4 separate regions of the Homo sapiens genome follow, and all the other regions are linked to region 2. The links come from fine-mapping of genetic effects on gene expression. A gene starts in region 2. Each other region holds a variant in brackets. All regions are shown on one strand. Distances are from middle to middle.

Region 1 (5,158 bases), 42 kb before region 2:
CTGTACAGTAGTCATTAGCCACATGGGGCTATTTAAATTTAATTAAAGTGAAAATTTCATTCCTTAGTTGCACTAGCCACATTGCAAGTGCTCCACAGCCACTTGTGACTAGCCGTACTGCTAGGGACTACATGGATATGGAGTATTTCCACCATTGCAGAAAGTTCTATTGAGCTGTACTGTGCTATGCTGGGGAGTAATTAAAACCAGAACCTAAAAAGCACAGAGCCCTTCATATGAGGGGTGGAGAGGAGAGGCATCTCTGGGCAAGGCTTCCTGGCTGTCTCCCAAGAGGCCTCACAAGGTGGCTTCACCTTGACCCAGTGACGATAATCCAGGGTCTCTCTCAGCCTTGCAGACTCAGAGCCTGACTCGTCAGCACCAGAGGTCTCCTCCATTTGGGTCATGAATCAGAATGTCAATCTATTGATTTACCGTGAAAACCCTTACTACTTTCACTGCCCAAGGATTGGCATTCAGGCCGCTGGCTCCCGTGACTTCTCCCCACTGGCAAGGCCACCAGAAGTCCATGTATAATCAAACGGCTGCAGTGAGTCAGAGCCAGGCCAATGGCAGTGGTCTGTGTGTTCTGAATGTGCTATTGCCCAGCATCAAGAGGGACCTGCCTGTCCCGGGAGCCAGACAGGCACATCCTGGGCTGGAGTTCCACTGGCCTGATGGTGGTCAGCATTGCCAAGTTGTACTCCTGGGACTTCCCTTTTTTCTTTCTTCCCTACATCCCTTTTTCAATTTTAAAATAATTTTAAACTCACAAAACATTGCAAAAATTATACAAAGAGTTCCTGAGTACCTTTCCCATAGTTTCCACTACAACAGCATCTTACATAACTAGAGTACATTGTCAAAACCAGGACATTGACGTTAGCACAATACCCTTTTCCTCTGATAACGGCAAATGTGTTAATGGGTTCTTACACTGTGTCAGACATATTTTTGTTTCATTCTCACAACAATCCTACACTGTAGGTATTATTATTATTCACTCTATTTTATTGAGAAGAAGACTGGAGCTCTGAGAAATTAAATATCTTTCCTAAGGCTAGATAGACCGTAGATGGCAGAGCTGGGATTGGACTCTACCAAATCTGACTCCAGAGTAGCACTCTCTAAATATGAATGGATGGGAAAGACTTTAACAAGCAGACCTCAAACGCCAGACCAAGACGCTTTTCTGCCTGTTTGTATTTGCGGCCTATGTCTCCCGGATGATTCAGTGTGTGTTAAACCTGCACTTTCCCTGGGAAGGGGAAGGGGGAATAATGGGCTACAACCCCCAAATTCTGATGATGCATTGCTAAAGCCAAAATTTGCTCAAATGCTTATTAAATTTATCTTAATGTTTGAGAAAGATAAAAATAGTGCTCAAAATATAAAGACTACTGCAGGGTAGTTGTACATTTTATACTTCAAGAGCTCACTTGATGTCATGGCTTATTATAATTAGAGTAAACTTTCAATAATCAGTCACGGAGAACCATGAATTCTCTTCAGGAGGGGTGTAGACTTAATGAGCTGAGCTGCCAGTTTAGGAAATCAGGTTTAGACTTTGAATGTGGTAATGGTGAAATTGCTGCTCTAAAAAGAACCATCTGGTAGCAACTTGCATCGTACAGAGCAGCTACTGCACTATTCTCACAGCACCTATTGCACAGTGCCTGCAGGCACATAGCAGTGATAGGCGGTATATCTCTGGTGAATTAAATTGCCTGTGTTCTTCCTTCACAGCTCCTCCTCTCCTACATGTGAAAGAACCACAAATGAAAGGAAATCAGAGAGAGTTGGTTTTGTTTTTGGTTCAGTTTTGTTGTTGTTGTTGTTGTTTTTGAGACAGAGTCTTGCTCTGTTGCCCATGCTGGAGTGCAACGGTGCCATCTCAGCTCACTGCAACCTACATTTCCCAGGTTCAAGTGATTCTCCTGCCTCAGCCCCCGAAGTAGCTGGGATTACAGGCACCCACCACCATGCCTGGCTAATTTTCATATTTTTTGTAGAGACGGGGTTTCGCCATGTTGGCCAGGCTGGTCTCGAACTCCTGGCCTCAAGTGATCTGCCCGCCTCGGCCTCCCAAAGTGCTGGGATTACAGAGGTGAGCCACTGCGCCTGGCCAGGGAGTGTTTTGTTGGACAGGACTCTTATCAAAACTTGGATGTTCCACCCCAAAAATAAAAAGTTTGAAATCTACTGGCTCACACAAACTAGATGTAAAAGAGATCAATTACAAATCAGACTAACAATTGATTCATTTTAAAATAACTGATTAACCGGAATCGGTTGATGCCGAGATAGGATTTGGGGGTTTACATCAGCCTTTAGGAAAATCATAACTTACAGTCAAGGCTGAGTTCTGGAACCTCATTCTCTCAGCAAGGAAAACAGTTCTATCTGAAGCACCCCAGTAAACTCACCTCCTGACCACTCTCCCTCTCTCTACTCCTCCACCTCTAGCTATTACGATGGGGGCCTATTAAACAGACAAACACATAAGAAAATGGAAGGGAGAATGCTGTAACAAGATCATGAAAGCACAGTTACCATGGATCATTGGCTAGGGCTTGGAAATACTTTCATTATGGCGAATTGCATCCATCAGCTCGAAAACATTTTGGAAGTAAACAAATGAAAAGAGTTAGCAATCTGCCACTTAGGATTCTCTAGGTGAAGTCTTATCCTACCAAAATTAATTTTCCAGTCCCCTCCCGCTCAAACCTGCGCTATCCTTTTTGCTAATTCGTGAGCCAAAGGTTGATAATACTTACGTATACATTTAGCAAACCCAAACTCTGCCAAACTGTGTGAAAAAAATAAATGACTTCAGTGGATAGAGATCCAGGATGCAACCACACACTCCATGGCCACTTCTAACTGTGAGGACAGTGGAACAGGTGATCACAATGACTTGATATATATGGAAGAGACCTTCCTAAAAGTAGTCTCCTGTGTTTTGGAAAGTGTGTTTATAACTGTTTTGTAGAGGGGTCCCCACACCTCAAAGAGGAGCCAGTATGGTTGGGAAAAACTAGAACTTCGAGGCAGGAGACCAGTGGCCTATTTCCTGCTCTGTCACCTGGTTCCT[A/G]TGAGATTAAATCTTTCGGATTATCAGTTTCCTCATTTGTAAAGCAAGTTAGATGAATTAGATTATCCCATCATTTTCTGTATTTGATTAATGAGTTCATTCAAGATTGGCTACACATTCAAAATGTAACCAATTCCTCTAAATTCCTCTACATGAGTGGGTTTTTTGTTAAGGCTTGGATGTGGTCAAGATAAGGGATTGAGATTTGCCTAGCCTTTTATCCCTGGCACATGCAAAAAGTGCTCTGTAACCAAATATTTTGGAAATGCTGAGTTGTACCAAGTTGGTACAACTAGTTTCCTTTTGCAGAACCTCTCGGGGTCTTTAATGTGCTAATACAAATTATGGCTCCTAAGAGGTCTCTATCTAATCATAAAAAAATCACAATTTTTCTAAGAGGACACACTCCCTGGCAGATGCTGTACTAGAGTCCTCAGTCTCCAGTGTTAGGCTCACTCTAATTGATCTTGCCACCTAAAAAAGCAGGGAGGATTCCTTTGATAGACAACTCACCTTATGAGAGCAAAGGCACCCAGTCCCCACTTAGAACGCTGACAAATGAACCTGCAGAGCAGAAACACGGATGGCCCACTTTCTTACCACTCACAAAAATAGTATCTCTTCTGAACTTCTTCGGGGGATTCCTCTGAGGGTAAACATACCTCCAGACAAAAGGTCACATGTGTAGAATTGTACCTGTTCTCTGCCATTTTGTTTTTAAATCTTGATCTCTGAGTTGTAAAAAGAGACAGAGAAGAAAGAGAGAGAAAGCAACAGAGAGAAAGAGGTGAGAGGGAGGGAAACAGGCAGGTTTTAAGATAAGTTTGAGGAAAATTCACATCATAGTCATTGTTTCTTCCTTTTGGTTATTGGCTATCTAAATTTTTTATGGCAATATTTAAGTAAAGCATATAAATTCAAGGAGAAGCTGTAATAGTTAAGTATTTGGCATAAGACCTAACTGGGTGGAAACCCAGCTCTACTATTTCGAAGTTACTGTGATTCTGTATGACACAGTTAATCTCTGCAAATCTTACTTCCCCCTTTGTAAAATAGGAATTGTGGTGGTAGCTACCCCATAGGGTAACTGGAGGTATTATATAAGATGTATTGAGATTTATTGAGTACTTACCATATGCAGTGCATAGAAAGAGGCAGCCTTTACATTTAGAAATGGAGATTTTTGTAATTGGTTTGTGCCTATAAATTCCTATACCCAGATGTCTTATTATTTCTTCCAAGTCCTTTCCCTCAGGAAAAAAAAATATAGACAGATAGATAGATAGATACATAGATAGATAGATAGATAGATAGATAGATAGATAGATAGACAGACAGACATATATACATATATATATACACACACAATTCAAATTTAGGGGAGAAAAAAATTAGTAAATAAAATTTGTGTGGGCTAGCTAATAAATGTTGACCTAAAATAATAAAGAAGTAATTACCTAGCCCTGGTTTTTCCTCTTAAGAAAATTCTTTTCTTTTTTTTTTTTGGACAGAGTCTCATCTGTCGCCCAGGCTGGAGTGCAGTGGCAAGATCTCCACTCACTGCAACCTTTGCCTCCCAGGTTCAAGCGATTTTCCTACCTCAGCCTCCCAAGTAGCTGGGATTACAGGCACCTGCCACCACACTCGGCTAATTTTCTTCTGTTTTTAGTAGAGACAGGGCTTCACCATGTTGGCCGAGCTGGTTTCAAACTCCTAACCTCAGGTGATCCACCCGCCTTGGCCTCCCAAAGTGCTGGGATTACAGGTGTGAGCCACCGCACCCGGCCAAGAAAGTTATTTTCTGCATGAGACTTTCTCTCTGGAAAGTTAACAAATATGCTACCGATTTGCATAACAATCTCTTCCTTTTAATGAAGTACATGATACATAGCCTTAAGGCTCACCTTCAATGCTAAAAATAGATATTAAATACAGTCAACATTGTAATGAATAAAACCTAAATCTTTTAGAACCAAATGTTCATCCTGATCCCTCATATTATTTCAAACGCATTTTATACTAATTTTTTTTTAAAAAGTCTTTCTCTTGAATTAATATTTCAAC
Region 2 (5,158 bases):
GAACAGCACAGCTTAACCTAGCAAACATTTTAAGGAAATGCTTTGTTTCCTAGAAGGAGGATATCATTATATTCCATTCATTTATACCATAAACAACAGAAGAACAATTTTCAAAGTGGAAATTAGTTTCATAAGACAGAATAAAACTGGGCTTCTCAAAGCACAAGCCATTTCCATAAAATTAATTTTTTATTGGCAAAAAATACTTAAAACAATTTTGATGTAGTACTCTGCTTCTCAGAGCCCTCCCAATCCTCGAACCACAATCTATACACACGAACACATGCAATACTGTATTTTTCTCCACATCATTACTAACCAAAACACTTTACTCTTTTAAAACTTACAACTTGACAGAAATGTTTCCATTCAAGATTGCTATAATACAGAGAGCAGTTGTCACTGACGTGGTTTTTAGCAGCAGAAAGTAAACCGGGAACCAAATCTTACTTGTTACTTACTGCTTTAAAAAAATGACTGCCTTGCTACTGATCTCCATCTCTGCTCTTTAAGTTCAATATCAACACTGAGACTTTCAAAGAACCAGCGCAGCACAAGGACCCTGCAGCCGGCAATTCAGAGGGCATTTCGGACAACTTCCCCCCACCCCCCACTTTCTCCTGCTTCCAACAGAAGATCCTCAAGAAATCTAACTTGTGAAGAAGTCCCCCTAGGTTCCTCTACTTCACTGCAAAATGTAATGCCACTTGAGGTTGTCAAAAATAGCTTCTGTAGAAAACTGGCCATGGTCTTTAGGAAACGTTGCATGAAGAAAATTAGTACAGCCTTTATAGAAAAAGAAAAAAAGGAACCACACATGGAATAAAAGACGTCAGTACCGCTACAAAAAGACTGCAGGGCCTATTGTCAGGAAGAAAGTCGAGTTAGGAGGACGAATGTGCGGAGCTGGAGTGGGCTGAGCATCCTACTCCTCACCCACCCCACCCCCAAAGGAGTCAGTACAATCCAAGTGTCTGTCCACTTCGAGTCATTTTGAAGGCAGCTTAGAAAATTAAACAGGGGCCAGAAGGAAAAGATACAACGTCACCGTCCGAGCCAAAGGGAAAGGCTGGGTTGGGGGTCTATGTGGCGGGGCCTCCCTCATAAACCAATGCCTTTCAGGTCGCAGGGATGGGTCGCCTGGGTGGTCCGGGGGCTCTGGCAGCAGGGGAACTGGGCCCTGAAGCAGTCCCTCAGCTCCCTGTTGAAGAGGAAGCACACGACGGGGTTGATGCCGGCCTGCGCGAAGGTCAGCCACACGGAGGCCGTCAGGTAGGCCTGGGGGACGGCGCCGGGCCGCACCAGGACCCGCAGGTAGCTGGCCACGACGTAGGGCCCCCAGAGGAGCAGGAAGAGCAGCGTGACGGCGTAGAACATCTTGCACAGCCTCTTCTCCGTCTTGAATTCTTCCAGCACGAGGAGGCGGCGCGCGCCGCGGCCCGGCCCTGCGGGCCGGATGCCCACAAGCGCGGGCGGCGTGGGCCCGCGGCCGAAGCCCGCCGTCCAGTTGGCGGCCGCCTGGCCGGTGGCGCCCGGGCCGTGGAAGGTCCAGTCGTGGCTGACGGCGGGCACCAGGCGCGCGGGCCGCATCTTGCGGCGGTCGTGGATGAAGAAGAGCAGGCGGAGGTAGACGAGGTGCGTGGCGCCCACCACCACGGCCAGCAGCAGCAGGAAGCCCAGCGCGCCGGGGGCGCCGTCGGGCCGCTGCTCCAGGGCGCACGGCGCGTCCTCGTCGTCGCCACCGCCGTCCAGCACTGGCGGGAAGGCCGCGGCCAGCGCCAGCGCCCAGGCGGCGCACACCAGCATGGCGGCGCACGGCCAGCCGGCCAGGCGCTCTGCATAGAAGCGGTGGTGCGCGATGGCCAGGTAGCGGGTGACGCCCACGCCCAGCAGCAGGAAGGCGGCGTGGAAGCAGAAGAGCGCGGCCAGGAAGGCGAGCAGCTTGCAGCCCAGCGCGCCCGGCGGCGCCCCCGCCGCGGCCGCCGCACGCCGCGCCGCCAGCATGACGGCCGGGAGGCAGGCGAGCGCGCGCAGCCCGTCGGCCAGGCACAGGTCGAGCAGCAGGTAGTACGGGGCGCGGTGCAGGCTGCGCTCCCGCACGATCAGCAGCGCGAACAGCACGTTGCCCGCTAGGCTCACGCACAGCAGCAGGCTGAGCGTGGCCAGCTTGAGGCCCAGGGCGGCCGCCTCGCCGCCGCCGCTGCCACCCGGCTCGCTCGCGTTCGCCATCGCGGCCTCACCAGGCCGTGCGCTCCGCCCCGGGGCCGTCCCCTGCCTCGCCGCTCCCGCAGGCCGCCCGGCCCGAGCTCCGCCGCTCCGCCGGCCCTGGGCGAGCTCCCCGTCCTGCGGGGCTCAGCCCGCTCCCGGCCGGCCCCTCCTGGGCTCCCCGAGCCGCCGCTGTGCCGCCGCCGCCATCTCAGGAATGGTGCGCGCAGGAGGAGGCGGCCACTCCCTGCGCCCTAGGCGCCGCGGGCTTCACTGCGGACAGGGCCTCGCCACCGTCCGCAGCCCCCCGCATCCTCCTCCGTCTCCTCCTACTCCTCCGCTGCTGCCGCCGCGCCTCTTGGCTCTGCCCCCCGCCGGGCCCGCCGCCGCCGCTGCCGCCGCTGCCGCCGCCGCCGCCGCCGCCGCGGAGCCCCCTCCCCTCCGCCGGAGCGCGCAGCGCGGCCGCCGCCGCCAGCCCCGCCGAGGCATCCCGCACCGCCTGGGCCCGGCTGGGCTGGGGGCGCCTCCGCAGCAGCCGCGGGGTCGGGAGGCGGCCGGGAGGGAGGCAGGGCCCAGGACGCAAGGTGGCGACAAGTCGCGTTTGGCCCCAGGTAACGGGGGTCCGGCGGCGGCGCCCGCGCTGGGGTCACGGTGGCCGTGCGCGGGGGAGGTTGCCTGGGCTGGCAGGGTCGGGAGGCCTCAGAGGGGACAGGAATATCTGGAATGAGCCTTCTGCCCGAAAGCTGGGAGTAATTTACGATAGTAATAGTCATCGTAATCCTAAAACCGCTGATACTCAGGTGCGCACTGATGTGGGTGGCAGTGTGCTGGGGAGCTTGGCAAGCATTATCTCCCTCAACAGTAATCACGAAGTTGTTGCCATCCTTAATCCCACTTTATACCTCAGGAAGCAGAGGCTTGGAGGTCAAGGGAGTTGAGAGCCGGGAAGTAGCGGAGCTGGGATTCAAATTTCGCTTGGTCTGATTTCCAGTGCTGGACTCACAGCGACTCCGCAGCATCCCCTGCTCGCTAACTCATCCGTGATCCCGGTGAAGGACCTATATCAGGGAAAAGAAATGCAGCATTTCATCTTTAAGTGACTTGGAAGGTGAACCCTATGCCACCTTCCTCCCAGGATATCTATTTTCTGGGTAAGCCTGAAAGGGCAGCCCCTGTTATGATTCTCAGACACACCGCATTTGTCTCGCAGGACCTTGCATGTGCTGGTACCTCTGCCTGGACCAGCCCCACAACAGGCTCCCTCTCCGTAGGGCCTCCTTCTAACCCGTCTGTTTTACTCTGTATCCCTGCCCTCTAGTCATTTCCTTCTTAGCACTTATAATTTGTCATTATATACTTTCATTTCTTTTTAAAAATCATGCTCTTCTAACTAGGCTCTAAGCTCTTTGAAGGCAAGGGATCATGCCTGGTTTTTGGTACCACTGCATCCCCAGTGCTTAGCATGGTAAAGCCAGAATTAAGCAACGCATTGTTTCTCACCCACACTCATTTGTTTTTTCTTCTGTGCAGAAAATTATTTGTTGCCTACTGATTACATGCAAGGCAGGCACCTTGATGGGCATTTTCAGGATAGTGCAAGATCATAGAGGGCCTTAATGATCAGGCTAAGAAGTCGAAACTTTAGTCTGCAGGCAGTCAGGAGCCCTTGAAATCTTTTGAGAAGGGGAGCGACATGACTAGGTGTGCTCCAGGAACATTATTCTGGCAGCAGTGTTGAGGAGGGATGACAGAGCAGAGCCGGTAAACCTAGTCCAGAGCCTCAAACTTCACTATGTGCAGAAATCACTGGGGACCCTGTTAAAATGAAGATTCTGATTTAGTAGTTCTGGAATGGGGCCGGAGGTTCTGCATTTCTAACAAGCTCCGGGGTGAGACTAATGCTGTTGGTCTGCTGACCTTACTTTGAATAGTAAGGCCCTTGGGGACAGTTTGGATATTTTTTTAAAAATCTAAGTGATTTTTCAAGAAAATCAACTATTGAGCACCTGACTTGGGACTCCTAAGTGGCCAGCAGCAAGTGGCTGACCAGGCACATCTGTAAATGTATGTTGATAGAAAATAGATTTTGGAGGGTGTATGGGTTAGGAATTGCAGTTTGATACTAGTAGCAAAAAACGTGTACATGAGTTTATTTTCCTCGTGAAAGAAGAAGTTTGGAGGTCAGTAGTTGCTGACATTGATTTATTGGCTCAAGGACTGAATCTCTGAAAATCTTTTAGCCCTTCCCTCATGATCACAGTAGGCTGCCGACGCCCCAGCCATCATTTCTTCATTCCAGGCAGAAAGAAGAAAAGGGAAAAGAGCAGCAATATTCCAGCCATCTAAGTAGGAAGAGCTTTCTAGAAGCCCTACATTATAAACAAACACTTAAACATATCATTGGCTATCAATTGAGAGTGAGCACTTGAGCAAGGGAGGGTAGGAAATGGTTTCTTATTTCTTTGTTTAAAGTTAGACCCATGGCTGTAGAGAATTCGATCCTGCCTTGCTGTGGCCCTTAGCGCTTGGGCTGCCTCTGCCCAGAGGAGGGAATGCCTTCTTAATAACCCACACAAATTCACCAACTCTGGTTGCTTTATGGTAATACTAATGGCAGCCACCTTTTACTGAGCACTTGCCGTATGCCAAGCATTGTGCTAAATTCTCGACATGTGTTATTTAATGTAATCATTGTAATGGCCAGATGTGGTATGTGCTGTTACTGTCTTCATTTTGCAGAGGAGGCAGAAGGGTTAATTTGTTCACGCTTTCACCACTTACACTTACTTTACACTTACTTTCAAGTAAGTGTAAGAGCTGGAAGTCTGACTTTATTTATTTTGAAACAGGGTCTCACTCTGTCACCTAGGCTGGAGTCAGTGGCATCATCATGGCTCACTGCAGCCTCAACCTCCCAGGCTCAGGCCGTCCTCCTATCTCAGCCTCCTGAGTA
Region 3 (5,111 bases), 24 kb before region 2:
TTAACTTTCTCCTTTAAGAATTACGTTGTTTTTGGCTGGGCATAGTGGCTCACACTGTAATCCCAGCAATTTGGGAGTCTGAGGCAGGCAGTTTGCTTGAGCCCAGGAATTTGAGACCAGCCTGGGCAACATAGTGAGACCCCGTCTCTATAGAAAAATTTTTAAAAATTAGCTGGGCATGGTGGCACACACCTGTAGTCCTAATTACCAGGAAGGCTGAGGTGGGGGAGGGGATCAGTAGAATCCAGGAGTTTCAGGCTGCAGTGAGCGTGATCTTGCCACTATACTCCAGCCTGGGTGACAGAGCAAGACTCTGTCTGGAAAAAGAAAAATTGTGTTGTTTTCATGCAGTATTAGTACAGCTTCACATGCCCTAGATGCTAGAATCACATAGCCTGTTTACTGAAACAAGGGAAAAGTGACATATCCCATGGAACTATGTTTGTGTTAATAACAATCATAATTGCACCTTGTTAAATACTGTGATGTACCAGATCCTCTATATTAAATGTTGTATATGTACTTCTTACTTAATACAGCAAGCCTGTATACAACATTAAGCCCCAGAGGGGTTCAGCAACACAGGCTGTGAGTAAACAAGAGACACTCAACTTCATTCTTTGTGACACTCTGTTGTTTATGTGGTCTTAATCATTACACGCTTCTGCCTCCGCGAAAGCAGTCGTTGGGTTTAATTTGAACACTTTGTAGTCCAATTAACCAAAACTGGTTTGTTTGGATAACAGAGACAAAATGATCACTGGAATGAGTGATAACAGTTCAGAATGGGAATTTGTGTCGTCCGATAGTTTTGATGAGTGTTCCAATCCTCTGCAATATTTAAAAGAGAACCGAATTCTATTTCCCTAGTTCCTAGATAACTTCAATTTCAGGTTTAGTCCAAGATTAATTTTGAAAGTAAACAAATGCAGTCTTCTTGCATAAGCCTGGCTACATCTCTTTGGTTCTGTTTTTATCATGGATCCAATAATGAAATCTTTAAATAATAGAGTATGGTTTTCAGATGTTCACTTGAAATGTATTTCTGGAATTTTATTTTCTAACTTTTCATATTGGTTGCTTTTTTATCTTCAAATACATTTTCAAAGGTTATTTTGATGACCTATTTTAAGAGAAGATCCTAGAGTTGTACTTGTTCCAGATGAAATTTACCTATTGTAGAAAAAGATCTAGTTTCTTCCAGAATATCTCTCAGCTGTATGGTCTGTTCAAAACAACTCAAGAAAAAAGTCTTTCCTCAATACATACTGATGAACATTATGTACAGTATTCAATTATGCTCTGAAGTTTAATGACTCATTAGTAGATAGTAAAAATGTAGACCCTATATAGAATTTTTTTTTTCATTTTGTTTCAGCTTAGTCATTAGCCACCGAAAATCCGTTTATTTGGGTCAAGTGAACAGTATTTGATGACTGAAACTGAGAACCATAGATAGGAGTTTATAGCTACCGAGTTCAGTTTGCTGTTTTATTTAACATGTACCAATTAACTTGTACAGTTTACAGTCCCTGACAGGCTATTGTTTTATAATTGTATAGTTTTGAACTTTATGTTTGATAATTTTAAGATAGAATAAAATATGTGAGATATATGAGTTCACCTAGGAAGCATAGTATGCATATTTTCTAAATACATTTTAAAGCAAATAATAGTTTTAACAGGTATTCATTTTTCTCAAATTTTTTATTTTATTTTATTTTATTTTATTTATTTATTTTTTTGAGACAGAGTCTCGCTTTGTCACCCAGGCTGGAGTGCAGTGGTGTGATCTCGGCTCACTGCAAGCTCCGCCTCCCGGGTTCACGCCATTCTCCTGCCTCAGCCTCTCAAGTAGCTGGGACTACAGGCGCCCACAACCACGCCCGGCTAATGTTTTTGGTATTTTTCGTAGAGACGGGGTTTCACCTTGTTAGCCAGGATGGTCTTGATCTCCTGACCTCGTGATCTGCCTGCCTCGGCCTCCCAAAGTGTTGGGATTACAGGCACATTTTTCACAATTTTTTAACACTTAAGAATGACTTAACTGAATCATGCCTTTAGAAGAAACTTTCTGTTTAAAAAAAAAAAAAGACAAAACAACAAGGTTTCTATTAATGCCGGTAACTTTCCAAAGTTTACATAGAAGATTAGCCATTTCCTTCCCATTTTGACTAATGTTTAGCTTTGAAAGCTTTGAACACTTTTTAGTATTCAATAATTATGT[G/A]ATTAATACTTTAATCTTTATTGCTTATTGTATTCTGAATTTTTTCAGTTTAAACAACTATGTTTCCTTCAAACAATCTTGTTTTTAAATTTTCCTGCGCTTTTTATGTGAACATTTTTAGCACCAGGTTTTTTTAAAAACTTCACTTTCCTTCCTTTTCTGAAGGAAAAAAATTCAAATAAAAACCTGGTACTTGTTTTATTTTTTTAACTTGATATTTAAAAAATTATTAGTGGTTTCTACTTTAGAACCAACCTATGAGGAAACATTGTAAACATAATTTCAGAATATGAAGTCATTAAAATTTTTACATATTTTTTAAAGTAAAAAAATTTTAAAATACTAAAATATAACTAATGCAACTAGAAATTTAGCAAAAGATGGGGAAGAAAGCATAATATGCTGATTTTCTCATCTTTCCTATCACAATGTCAAGAGCTACTGTCTATGATTATTTCTTGGGATAGCATCATAGCAGTGTTTATAGGTTCAGTTCAGCAAAAAGACTTACAAGACAGAAATAGGCTTTAGTCTAATACAGGTTTCTCAACTTTGGTACTATATGCGCTTTGCCCAGTTTCTCCCAATGGTGACATCTTGCAAAACTATAGTACAATATTCCAAGCAGGATATTGACGTTGATACAGTTAAGACACAAAACATTTCCATCACTATAAGGATCCCTCATGTTGCCCTTTTATAAGTGCTAATTTCTCTTTAAAAGTGCTGCAAAAGAGTAAAAGTCATGCTTTCTCAAAGTGCTGGATGTTCTGCCTCGGTAACTTCTAGAATTTGCTGTTTGGAATTCTAGGCTATTGGAAACTTTGCATTAAGTGTTGGTTGATTCTAAAGTAAACCATGAAGTTTGGACTAAGTGGTTCCAGTGTGCATCTTCTGTAAGCACTTTCTCTTGCATTTGTGATTATGAGACGCCTGTTAGCTTTGTCACACAGTATCTGTAGATCTAGAAGTGAGTGGGCCAGTCAAGAAACGGACAAGCATCTACCGAGTGTATAATATCAGAAATCATGGTTTTTGGCCAGGCACAGTGACTCACGTCTGTAATCCCAACACTTTGGGAGGCCAAGATGGGCAGATCACTCGAGGCCAGGAGTTCAAGACCAGCCTGGGCAACATGGCAAAACCCTGTCTCGACTAAAAATACAAAAATTAGCTGGGCATGGTGGCACATGCCTGTAGTCCCAGCTACGTGGAAGGCTGAGGTGGGAGCATCACTTGAACCTGGGAGGCTGAGGCTACAGTGAGCTGAGATCATGCCATTGCACTCCAGTCTGGGCACAACAACAGAGCAAGACTCTGTCTCAAAAAAAAAAAAAAAAAAAAAAAAAATGAAAAGCGAAAAGAAAAAAAGAAAAGAAGAGAGAAAAGAAAGAGAAAAGGAATCATGGTTTTTGTCGTTAGGAGCTCACAGAACTGAGTGAACTGGGTTTGAATGAGAAAAAAGCACCTAAGTATTAAGGACCCTGCAGTTCAGTGTAATCATTATGTTAGGGTCAGTCAAGGCAGATCCAGATTGATGTTCATACAGTCTTGGTGTCCTTGATTTAAAGAAATAATACAAAGATTTTTTTTAAGTTTCACAAAAACAGATGACCTTGTGAACACACTACCAGGGTCCCTCCTAGGTCCTGGATTAGAGGCCTATACATGAGAGGGGCTTCGGCCTCTTGGGCTTCATGGTGAGTCCATCTCTGAGTTTGGTGGTGTGAGTTACGTTTTGCCTGCTCGGAGCTGGGCAGGGCAGTGAGGGGAGCCTTGGGATCTGAGTTGGTCATCTTCTGCCCTTCGGGGAGTTCCTAGACTCTGTGGGGCATTGCAGGGCATTTGATTGGCACATAGCAAATATCTCCTGAGTGTTTTCTGTGTACCAGGCTAAGAGCTATATGCTCATGAGTAAAATGGATATGGTCCCCCCTTTAGAGAGTCTGGAGTCTGGGCTTGGTGGTGTTTGAGAAGAGAGCAAAATCTGGAAGAAAGCAGGACCCTGTTTGACTATGAGCACTTTCCCCTCCTAGCTGAGTAACCTCAGTCCAGGACCTTTGCTTCACCTCAAAAGGAAGCCACTTACCTCTATCTCAGACAAAGCAAAAATCTGGTGCTGAGGTTTGGGATGACATTCATACATGATGCCTTCTGAGACCTGACCCATGGCGCACAATCCATGTGATTTTTCTTTTCTGCTGGGCCCAAGGTACTGCCCACCCCATGTGACAGGCCAGAGAATGATCATAGTGTCATGATGCAGAAAGCACAAGGCTGTGAGCACCAGCAGCTGAAACAATTTTACTGGTGTTCTGTCTTGTATGATCAAGAGGGAAGCTCCACGATGCACAGCCTCACCTGTGTTGCTCATCATTGTATGCTCGGCACTTAAGATAGGGCCTGGTATGTAGGTAGCACTCAGTATCTGTTGAATGAGTGAATGAAAGAAACATATTTGGTGATCTCTGTTTGTAACAGTTTAACATGCTCATTATAGGTGTATTTCACTGACACACTTCAGGCTCCTTTTACTTGGATATTGCTATCTGTGTTTGTTTTTCTCAACCTCAGCACTATTGATGTCTTGGGCCAGATAATTCTTTGTCGTAGGGGTTGTCCTGTGCATTGTAAAATGTTTAGCAGCATCCTTGGCCTCTACCCACTAGACGCCTAGAGCATCCCCCTCCCTGCCCTTAGTTGTGACAAATGAAGACATTTGCAGACATTGCCAAATGTCCCCTGGGGACACAATCGTCCCTAGTGGAGAATCACTGGCCCATGCAGCAGTTTTAGGCTTGGCAGAAAGGAAACTTATGGTCTCAGGGTCAGAATGGGCTATAAAGGTCGTTGATGATCACTTCTCATGCTATCCACTTATAAC
Region 4 (5,158 bases), 52 kb before region 2:
CCTCATAGGATTGTTGAGAGAGTAAATAGCTAATATAGCTGAAGGGCTTGGCATATGTTTTGACACTGTGCTGAAGAAGGCATTGGCTACCATTACTATTATTATTCGAAGAAGACATTTTTAGTTTCATCTCCTACATAATTTTGCAGCCCACTAGGTAGTATATTTCTGGCTGTAAGGCTTGGAAAAACCCATCCTAAATGACATAAAAAATAAGGTGGCTGGGCATGGTGGCTCAAGCCTATAATCACAGTACTTTGGGAGACCGAGGCAGGTGGGTGGCTTCAATTCAGGAGTTGGAGACCAGCCTAGGCAACATAGTGAAATCCTATCTGTTAAAAAAGTACAAAAATTAGCCAGGTGTAGTGGCGCATGCCTGTAGTCCCAGCTACATGAGGGGCTGAGACAGGAGGCTTATTTCAGCCTGGGAGGTTGAGGCTTCAGTGAGCCCTCTTGCTGCCACTACACTCTAGCCTAGGCAACAAAATGAGACCCTGTCTTAATAATAATAATAATAATAATAATAATAATAATAATAATAATAATAATGAAATGGCTGGGCTCAGTGGCTCATGCCTATAATCCCAGCACTTTTGGAGGCCGAGGAGGGAGGGTTGCTTGAGGCCAGGAGTTTGAGACCAGCATGGGCAACATGGTGAAACCCCATCTCTATAAAACACTTCAAAAATTAGCCAGACGTGGTGGCACACGTCTGTAGTCCCAGCTACTCAGGAGGCTAAGGTGGGAGGATCACTTGATCCTGGGAGGTCAAGGCTGCAGTGAGCCCAGATCACACGACTGCACTCCAGCCTGGGCAACAGAGCAAGACCTTGTCTCAAAAATAAATAAATAAAAAATAAGACAGTAAGGAAATGTATTATCTTACCTAACTGGAAGGAGTGGCACCATCAGTAGCTGAAAGATGTCGTCAGATAACTGACTCTCTCCGTCTTTCTCATGATGTTGTAAGCCTCATTTCCAAGTGCCTCATAATAACAAGACAGTTGTCAGTGGCAACTGGAGCTACATACTTCTTTGTTCTCAACTACCTGGTCAAAAATGGAAAAACCACATCTCCAAGTGTGTAATATAAATGTTTCCTTCATTTTGATTGAACCAGTCCTAGTCACAGGACCAATGAGTCATGCAGGCAGGTGATGGGGGAATGGCACATGCCAATAGCCTCCTTAAGATTCACTCCTGGCCTGGCGCGGTGGCTCACGCCTGTAATCTCAGCACTTTGGGAGGCCGAGGTGGGCAGATCACGAGGTCAGGACATCGAGACCATCCTGGCCAACATGGTGAAACCCCGTCTCACTAAAAATACAAAAAATTAGCCGGGCATGGTGGTGGGTGCCTATAGTCCCAGCTACTTGGGAGGCTGAGGCAGGAGAATTGCTTGAACCGGGGAGGCAGAGGTTGCAGTGAGCCGAGATTGTGCCGCTGCACTCCAGCCTGGCGACAGAGTGAAACTCTGTCTCAAAAAAAAAAAAAAAGATTTACTTCTAGAGTCTCGGGTCACATTCTTCTAAGCTATACTTGGTCAGAATCGGAGTTGTGTTAGGAAGAAAGACACAAGTGAATGGATGCGGGGCAATCAGTGTTCACCAATGTACTATTGCTCTCAGAAAATATGGAGATGCCTCTTTTTTCATATTTTAAAAAACTTCTCAATTTTTAATTTTTTTTAAGTTTTAAATTTTTGGAAATAATTGTTTTGTTTTGTTAGTTTTTAGAAAAAGGATCTCACTCTGTTGCCCAGGCAAGAGTGCTGTGGCATGATGACAGCTTACTGCAGTCTCCGACTTCTGGGCTCAAACAGTCCTTCCGCCTCAGCTTCACAAAGTGCTGGGATTACAGGCATGAGAGAGGATGAATTCTAACACATTACATTGTGGTTAGAAACTATGTTACCAGATATAAGAAATAAAATAAAATTACATCTTCATATGTATATTTTATATATTTATAGCTAGCATTTATTGAGTGATTGCTTTGTGCCAGATCTGGCTTTGTGCCAGATAGTCACTCAGATACTATTAAGTGATTGCTTTGTGCCAGATACTACCCATCATTTCCATCAGCCTTCACAAATACCCTTATTTATTTCCTCAGAAAATACTTATGAAGCCCCTACCATACTTCAGGCACTGTCTTGTCACTGGGAATATAGCAACAGCAGGAAAAGACCAAGACCCAGTCCCTCATGGAAACTACATTCGAGAAATAGGAAACTGTGGCTGAGAGGGATTGAGTGAATTGCCCAAAGTTACACAGCTTGAATGTAGCAGAGTCGAGATTTGAACTTCAGAAGTCTAATCTAACTCCAAAGTCAAGAATGGGTGTATTAGTCTGTTCTTGCACTACTATAAAGAAATACCTGAGACTGGGTAATTTATAAAGAAAAGAGGTTTAATTGGTTCATGATTCCTCAGGCTTTACAGGAAGCATACTGGCTTCTGCTTTTGGGGTGGCCTCAG[G/A]AAATGTACAATCATGGCAGAATGTGAAGGGGAAGCAGGCACATGTTACATGGCCACCCCAGGAGGAAGAGAGAAATGGGGGAGGTGCCACACAGCTTTAAACAACCAGATCTTGTGAGAACTCACTCGCTATACTGTACCAAGGGGGGATGGTACTAAACCATTCATGAGAAACCCGCCCTCATGATCCAATCACCTCCCGCAAGTCCCACCTCCAGCATTGGGGGTTGTAATAATTCCAGTTCTCAGCCAATGGCAGGCTTCCTTCTTTCAAGCCTTGACTTTTCAGGGGAGAGCTCTCTGGGGCCTGGAGGAGGCATTGCTCTAGGGGTCAGGCACCATGCCCCACAGTGGCATCACTGCTTGAGAGCACCCAGAACAATGAAAGGCAGCCTGTGAGCCAGGGGAGGGTCCACTCAAACCAAGGGTGTATGGAGCAAACTGCGTAAGCATTGAGGCCCCAGGAGAGATTTGCACAGGAGATGCAGGTGCCCAGTATGATCAATCCCTCTCCCCAGACCTCCAGCCATCATTTGCAATAACCGAAGTTAACATTACCTGATGCTTTGCTTCTGGGGAACCAGTGTGCACAACCTCCTTAAAAAAAATAAGGGTTTGGCTGGGCTTGGTGGCTCACACCCATAATCCCAGCACTTTGGGAGGCCAAGGCAGGTGAATCACCTGAGGTAAGGAGTTCGAGACCAGCCTGGCCAACATGGCAAAACCTCATCTCTACAAAAAATACAAAAATCAGCCAGGTGTGGTGCTGCACACCTGTAATCCCAGCTACTCGGGAGGCTGAGGCAGGAGAATTGCTTGAAACTGGGAGATGGAGGTTGCAGTGAGCCGAGATTATGCCAATGCACTCTAGCCTGGGCAACAAGAGTGAAACTGCGTCTCCAAAAAAAAAAAAAAGAAAAGAAAAGAAAAAAAGGAAAAAAAACGGTTTGTGGCATGTAGTGGGGCGAGACTTTCAGATTTCTGAGCAGGAACCTAAGCTGATAGAAGAATTGTACACACTAAAAATGCCTGGTCCCTGTCATATTGTAGTGATCTGTGACCTTAAATTTAAGTATTCAACTTTCACCAGGTTATTTTGAATTTGAGTTCTGCTAGATAGAATCAAACCTATGTAAGGCTGGGCACGGCAGCTCGCGCCTGTAAATCCCAGCACTTTGGGAGGCCAAGACAGGTGGATCATTGAGGTCAGGAGTTTGAGACGAGGCTGACCAACATGGTGAAACCCTGTCTCTACTAAAAATATTAAAAAATTAGCCAGGCATGGTGGTGCACGCCTGTAATCCCAGCTACTCAGGAGACTGAGGTAGGAGAATTGCTTGAACCCAGGAGATGGAGATTGTAATGAGCCAAGATCACTCCACTGCACCCCAGCCTGGGCGTCAGGGGGAGACTCTGTCTTATAAAAAAATAAAAAGAATCAAACCTATGTTACTAATTGTTACTGAATCATCTGAATTTGACTGGCTTCAAAAGTGTCTTTCCAACAGGACTGTTTGTTTAATTGGGTTTAATATTATGCATTTTTCAACCAGTCTTGAAGAAGTTTTCAAACTCCCACTATGTGTCAGGTGCTATGCTAGGCACTGGGTGAATTAAAAAGGCATAGTCTGGTCCCCGGAAGCAGACTCAGAGATAAAGATTTTTGTGAAAATGATTTATGAAGGCAGGGTCTCCTGGGAACACTGGGCAAAGTAAGAGTAGGGGAACACGGCAAAGCAAGAGGAAGAAGCCCACCAGAGTGGCGATCTCAAACCAAAGGCCAGACTCCACCTGATCCTGCAGGGAGCTCTGGAGAGTCAACTGCATCTAAGGGTTTTTCCTGAGTCAGAATAAAGGAGCTGGGCTTTCATTCTGCTGGGTTAGCAGGTCCTTGGCTACTGGCTACCCCAAGCAGAAAAAAGCACTCCGGCATTTCTGGCCCTCTGCACAAGCAGAGCAGGGCCTCTCTGGGAGCCTGAGAGCAGTTCTGTTGCAGGTCCCACTGACATAGCAAAAGAACAATGCAGCCAAAGTAGGAGAGCATGGAAATGGTAAAGGAATGTGAGGGCTTCTGAGCTGAGCATCAGCAGTGGCTGCTACAAGGTCCCTAAAAGATGGTAATAGTCAGGGGCTAGGCACTCACGCCTGTAATCCTAGCACTTTGGGAGGCCGAGGCAGGTGGGTCACTTGAGGTCAGGAGTTTGAGACCAGCCTGGCCAACATGGTGAAACCCCATCTCTACTAAAAATACAAAAAAAGTAGCTGGGCATGATGGCTGATGCCTGTTATCCCAGCTACTTAGGAGGCTGAGGGATGAGAATCGTTTGAACCTAGGAGGTGGAGGTCGCAGTGAGCTGAGATCACACCACAGCACTCCAGCCTGGGTGACAGAGGGAGACTCTGCCTTTAAATAATAATAATAATAATGTTTTACCAGCTATCTGGGCATCCCTTCTCCCAGTCAGCTTGACACATAAAATTAACCATTATATCTGCCATTATCAAATGCAATAAATGCAGCATAGGAAATAAATAAAGTGCAATTTTGTAAGTACCTATTTGGGAAGAGGCAGACATTCTCAACCTGCAAGCACTCTAACCTTTCCCCTTCCCCTGACTCCCCAACTAGACATAGGCCCCGTGCTGGTGATGGAGCAGCCATGGTGCCCCCACCAGGA

The links.
Region 1: its variant is fine-mapped to the expression of GPR27 in whole blood (TOPMed, PIP 0.96).
Region 3: its variant is fine-mapped to the expression of GPR27 in whole blood (TOPMed, PIP above 0.99).
Region 4: its variant is fine-mapped to the expression of GPR27 in whole blood (TOPMed, PIP above 0.99). The same link has a PIP of 0.9 or more in blood mononuclear cells.

Annotation. Positions count from the first base shown.
Region 1 is chr3:71,793,015-71,798,172 of GRCh38, reverse strand. No RefSeq gene overlaps it. Among named protein-coding and RNA genes, the nearest start is that of PROK2, 10 kb to the right of the region's middle. The variant A/G (reference allele first, on the strand shown) is at 3,095.
Region 2 is chr3:71,751,121-71,756,278 of GRCh38, reverse strand. GPR27 (G protein-coupled receptor 27) reads right to left here and starts at 2,424. Exons shown (of 1, transcript NM_018971.3): 1 at 1-2,424. The coding sequence starts at 2,229. The coding sequence ends at 1,102. It also overlaps a transcript of EIF4E3 not described here.
Region 3 is chr3:71,774,831-71,779,941 of GRCh38, reverse strand. All of the region lies in intron 2 of PROK2 (prokineticin 2), which reads left to right. Among named protein-coding and RNA genes, the nearest start is that of PROK2, 7.8 kb to the left of the region's middle. The variant G/A (reference allele first, on the strand shown) is at 2,228.
Region 4 is chr3:71,802,759-71,807,916 of GRCh38, reverse strand. No RefSeq gene overlaps it. Among named protein-coding and RNA genes, the nearest start is that of PROK2, 20 kb to the right of the region's middle. The variant G/A (reference allele first, on the strand shown) is at 2,481.